2 separate regions of the Homo sapiens genome follow, and region 2 is linked to region 1. Evidence: fine-mapped expression QTL. Tissue or cell type: whole blood. Region 1 holds a variant in brackets; the other region holds the start of a gene. All regions are shown on one strand. Distances are from middle to middle.

What was found. PIP is the estimated chance that this variant, and not a neighbour inherited with it, causes the effect.
Region 2: TSPAN13 starts here. The variant in region 1 is fine-mapped to the expression of TSPAN13 in whole blood (TOPMed, PIP 0.94).

Annotation. Positions count from the first base shown.
Region 1 is chr7:16,643,498-16,646,256 of GRCh38, reverse strand. It overlaps ANKMY2 (ankyrin repeat and MYND domain containing 2), which reads left to right and starts at 503. Exons shown (of 10, transcript NM_020319.3): 1 at 503-750. The coding sequence starts at 684. BZW2 (basic leucine zipper and W2 domains 2) reads right to left here and starts at 76. Exons shown (of 12, transcript NM_014038.3): 1 at 1-76. RefSeq lists an enhancer at 97-376. The variant C/G (reference allele first, on the strand shown) is at 1,635.
Region 2 is chr7:16,752,528-16,755,144 of GRCh38, reverse strand. It overlaps TSPAN13 (tetraspanin 13), which reads right to left and starts at 1,390. Exons shown (of 6, transcript NM_014399.4): 1 at 1,115-1,390. The coding sequence starts at 1,177.

The sequences.
Region 1 (2,759 bases):
TGGGGGCTGCGGCGATTCGTGCAGCAGCAGCGGCAGCAGCAGCAGCAGCAGCAGTGGCGGCAGACAATGGAGGAGTGAAGGACAGACACATTGACATAGACACACGGAACCCGGCGCAGCCCCGCCTCCCGTACCGCCCCCGTCTCCTAGACCGCCCCCGCCCAGACTGCGCCACTCCCGGGGGAATGGTGGGGGTACGGCGACAACCTGGGGCCTCTGCATGCCCCAGAAAGCCGTCGCTGAGCACATAACTGCCAGCTGTAGAATTTTCAATATTACATGTGGCGAAATATTTGAACCGGACAGGATAGGGGAGCGGAACGTGTAGGAGGAATTTAATTCCCCCCTCCAGCTTTCTGCATTTGGTTTTGTCCTCCCAGGTTGCTCCAATGGCGATCTCTCGCTACCGCCTCCTGCGGCTCCTCCTCCTCGGCAGGGCCAATGACAGGCGGCAGGCGGTGACCGCCGCAGGGCCTGCGGAGACCGTCCGCCTGGCTCGCCCGAGCTCGCCCGCTGTCCGCCAGCCCGCGGGAGGGAGGAGAGAAGCGAAGCGTTTCCGCGGTTGGCTACTCAGTGTCTTGGTCTCAAGTTGCCTCATTGCGGCTGGCGTTCCCAATACAGACGCATCGTTTCTTTTTTAATACTCCCTAAGAAAGGGAATAACCTTCAAGCTGGCGGGAGCAATGGTTCACATAAAGAAAGGCGAGCTGACCCAGGAGGAGAAGGAGCTACTGGAAGTCATCGGGAAAGGTACGGGTGCTGGGCTGCGACGCGGCCGCGGCCAGCCTGGCCGGGGGGCGTGGCGGAGCCCGGGGGGCGCTCCTGGCCTGGGTGACCTTTGGCTGCGGTTCTGCAAGGTTTGCAGCCTGGAACCGGGAAAGAGCGTTTCTCCCTTTGGTCTGGGAAAGGTTGCAGGGGCGGAGAGGTGGGGAGGCAGAAGCAGTGCTGGGACAAGAGGGGTAGTTACAGAGGCTCGGCCTCTAAATCCGCTTTTGGAAACGTACGGATTTCCACGCCCCGCCTTAGGTTAATGCGAGCTTCCCGGGGTGTGGACCCCAGTGTGTGAATTCTTCACTGCTCCCGAGGGATTTTGACCGCGGTCAGTCCTGGTAGTTTCAGGTTCTTAGGCGGGTGTCTAAATGACCCTTTAGACTTCCGCAGGCCGAATGATCTGGATCCTTTGCCGATCCCCGCCCCCGCTTGGGAGTGGAGGGCGCCCTTAGGGAGAGGGGTTCTTCATAAGGGTACAGAACTAGGTCTGTAATTTGCTGCATTGAGACTTCCGTATCCAGGGCCTCCCTGGCTTCCAGAAGCCCCGACAGCCTCAGGAACCCTAGAGAGACAAGGAAATTGGCGAGGCCTCCACACCCACCCCTCGGCCCACGTTGCACAGATGAGACCTTCTAATCGCGCTCCTTCGCGCTTTCTTGTCCACTCCCCCAAGGCGTGCCCCACTTCCGCAGTGCTGAGTCCCAGCGGGGAGCCCCGAGGACGAGCCAGAAGCCATATTTCCCCGGAGTCCCCGAGTGGACGTCCCAGAGGAGTTCCCTGCCGAGTCCCGTTACCTGGCAGGTGACATCAGCGTGACTGCATGCTTCTTCTGCACCCTCACGGTGCAGGGATGGTGATGCGTG[C/G]GACTCCGGGCAATTAATGTGGTGATTTTAAACTCAATAATAATATAGCCATGTTTGTCCTCGAATGGCAGAGATGCCAGTCATTGCAGCATAAGGCTTCCCAGTTTCCAGTTTTATTTACTTAGTAGCCAGGCTGAAATGTGGAATCCTAGAGAATAAGGCAGATTTATTCTTCATAGCGACAAGGAAACTCCACATGCGAAGGAGAAAAAATTCCGGTTTGAACTCAACAGGTGCTGATGAGCTGAGCCCACCCGATCTGATCTCAACTATTCTAAGTCAGTCACAGCTATATCTATCAATGATGTGTTCTTTGCCTGGAATTTGGGGATTTGGGTTAGAGTTTAGATTGTTGTACTGCATGGTTCTTGCTGACCTATTTGGCATTTCAGTCTTTCAGTTCTTCCTGTCTCTAGGTAATTTCTCCCTGCCTTTGATGGCTCTGGGATTCAATTAAGCAAACATGCAAGTTCTAGCTGTGTGCCAGGTACTGTGCTGGGCAAAAAGGAGACAAAGGATCAATTCACAATCCACCAGGGACAAAAATTCTTTTAGGCAGGACAGAGCTAGTACATGTCCTCTCTCTCTCTCGCTCTCGCTGTCTCTTTCTCTCTCTCTCTCGTTTGTTTGAGACAGGATCTCACTCTTCACCCAGGCTGGAGTTGCAGCTCTCTGCAGCCTCCACCTCCCTAGTGGCTGGGACTACAGGTGCGAGCCACCATGCCCGGCTACTTTAGAAAGATTTTTTTTTTTTTTTTGTAGAGATGGGGTGGTGGGGGTCTCCCTATGTTGCCCAGGCTGCTCTCGAACTCCTGGGCTCAAGTGATCCTCCTGCCTCGGCCTCCCTAAGTGCTGGGATTACAGGCATGAGCCACTGGGCCTGGCCCATCATGTGATCTCTTAAAAGTGAAAAATAGTGAGCAGTTTTATAAATTGAGTCTTTGAGAGGGGAGAAGGGATTCCTTGGATACATTCTCAGGTGTCCATCAGTATTTATTTTGAAGATTATATAAACCTGAATTAATGTGCATTTATTCTGGTTAGTGCTGTGATATTTCTGGGCTCACACGGTGCATCAAGTTGCATGAGTGCACTGATGCTTTCATCGCTTTCATTGGACCATGC
Region 2 (2,617 bases), 110 kb before region 1:
TGGGTGCTGCAAAGCGCCAGGTATATTTATAGAAGGGAGCAAGACTACTATGGAGGGATGATGACAGAAGAGGAAGTTTCTTCCGCCCGGTAGAGACAGCCTGTGGAAAGATCTGGATTCCACAGCCTAGGTTCCACTCCTGACTCGTCAACTACCAGCTATGTAAACTTACTAAAACCTTTTTGGTCTGTTACCTTATGTATAAAATGCAGATAATGCCCCATTCCCTCAGAAGGTTGTCAGAATGATGAACGAGCATTGTGTATGTAAAACCTGGGACGTGATAGGCATTCAATAAATGTCGATCTGTCCTGCCCATCCTCCTGTTCACCCAGAATTGCGCCTCAAAAAATCACAAAGAGAGCCTGCAGCGTTAAAACTAAGAGGCCCAAGCTGGTTGGCAGGGAAAGAAACGACTTGGGTGGGGGCTCGCTTATTTCCTGGAGGACTTGGTTTAAAATGGAGTTAGGATATTGATCATGGACAAGACACACAGAAAAAGCACCAAGTACTAGCAAAACTGACAACAACAAAAACAAAAAGACATCCCTTTACTGTGAGCACGAAACAAACTTCGGAAGCAGCGGACATCCTGTGAACCTACTCAGTGGCCTCAATTAAAATCCCGAGGGTACCAAGAGCTAACCCAGAGGCACACCAGCCATATGCCGCCTCGTCAGTTTCAGGCCACGCCATTCCGCAAAACTGTCCGCAAGCCCTGACGGCTCTCGCGCCTCCACGCCTGGCCCAGATGCGTCTGGATGTCAGGAGCGAGCGGCAGAAGGGTACGGGGTGGGAAAGCGGAGAGGTCCGGTTGAATGTTTGAAAAACAAGGCGGTGGGTGAGGGGGCGGGGTGGAGCAATGTGGCAGAGACGCGGCCAGCGAGCCTGAGAGACCGCGGCTTCACAATGAACGAAAGGAAGAGACTGCGACAAGCGCCGGCGCCCGGTCCCCGGCGGGGACGGATGGTGAGGCCGGGGGCGCGCAGACGTGGGAAGCCGGGAAGGGGGCGCGGGATGCAACGAGTGAGTCGCTGACCAGGCAGGGAAGCCAAAGAGCTCCCAAGCAGGTGCAAAGCCCCCAAGCGAGCAGGAACGGACTGGGGATACTCACGGTGTAAAGCAGGTTGAGGGCGCACAGGCAGTTCTTGGAACACGCGAAGCCCCCGCAAACCATCTTGGAACCTGTGGTTGCCGGCAGCTGCACGTAAATTCGACTCCGGCGGAGGTTCCCTGACAGCTGCTTTGTCCTTGCCTTTGGGGCCTGGCCCAGGCGGGGCAGCAACGCAGACGTGGGTGGGGGGCCGGGGCCTGGGGCTGCAGTGCGCGGCGCGCGCGCGGCGGCGGCTCGGACCCGCTTTGGAACCTGCGGCCGCCGCAGCTGAGCCGGAGCAGGAGCCCGAGCCCCGCCCAGCCCCTTCGTCTCGCCCCGCGCGCTGATTGGCCGCTGGCAGGGAACAAAGGTAGAAATATGCAAATAAATGCGCTCCGCCGACCGGGATCCGGGAGGGGCGGAGCGGTCCCGGGGCGAGGGGGAGAGGGCCAAGGCCGTGTGGGAGGGAGCCCCAGGCCAGAGCGGCGGCCTTGGTGTAGTTTCCCCAGGAGCAGGTGAGGAGGGAGGGCGGGGCTCGGAGGAGATCCACGCTGGCAAGGAGAAATATGACAGCACCTCTGGATTCTTGGCCCTGGCAGATGACGTGGCACCATTTTGAATGAGATTTCAAAACTAAGCACCTGGCCTTGTTTGAGGGAAGGAAGGCAGGAAGCAAGTAATGAATGAAAACATGTGAAAGATTTAAAAGAGAACGAAGTAGAGGCAAATGAAAGGGAGAAAATAAGTGAAACAATAAAAAATAAAATAAAATCCCTGCTTCTCTCAGAAAATAAGATATGTGCCCTATAATTGTGACCTGGACAGGTCAGACTTATCCTACAAAGATTTGCAAAATACTAATAAACTTTATGAATACATGCATGCAAAGGAAAATCAAGAGCGGGAGAAGGTGGGGATGGTTAATAGGTCCAAAAAAATAGAAAGAATGAATAAGACCTACTATTTGATAGCACAATAAAGTGACAATCGTTAATAAGAACTTAATTGTGTATTTTAAAATAACTTAAAGAATGTAATTGGATTGTTTGTAACTCAAAGGATAAATGTTTCAGAGGATGGATACCCTATTCTCCGTGATGTGCTTATTTCACATTGCATGCCTGTATCAAAACATCTCATGTACCCCGTAAATATATACATCTGCTACGTGTCAACAAAAGTTTTTTAAAAAATTTTAAAAAGAAAATCAAGAGAGATTATTTTTGTGTTCTGGTCGTGAATTTCAATAAACTTATTTTTTCACAAAAATAACTGAAAATCTTCAAATAACTCAGACTTCACCTCAATTAATTCATTATCAGTTTACTGCTTCTCTACTATAGAAATGCATCTTGTATCCTTAATTCCTCACCTATAAATTGAGATTTTAGAAGTATGTCAAGCACTTTTTGCATAGTGGCTGGCACAGGGGAAGGCCTCAATAAATGTCAGCTAGTATTCATAGATCTGACATTTTGTAAAGGCCTACTGTGTTCCAGGCACTAAGCGAAGGCAATAAAGGTT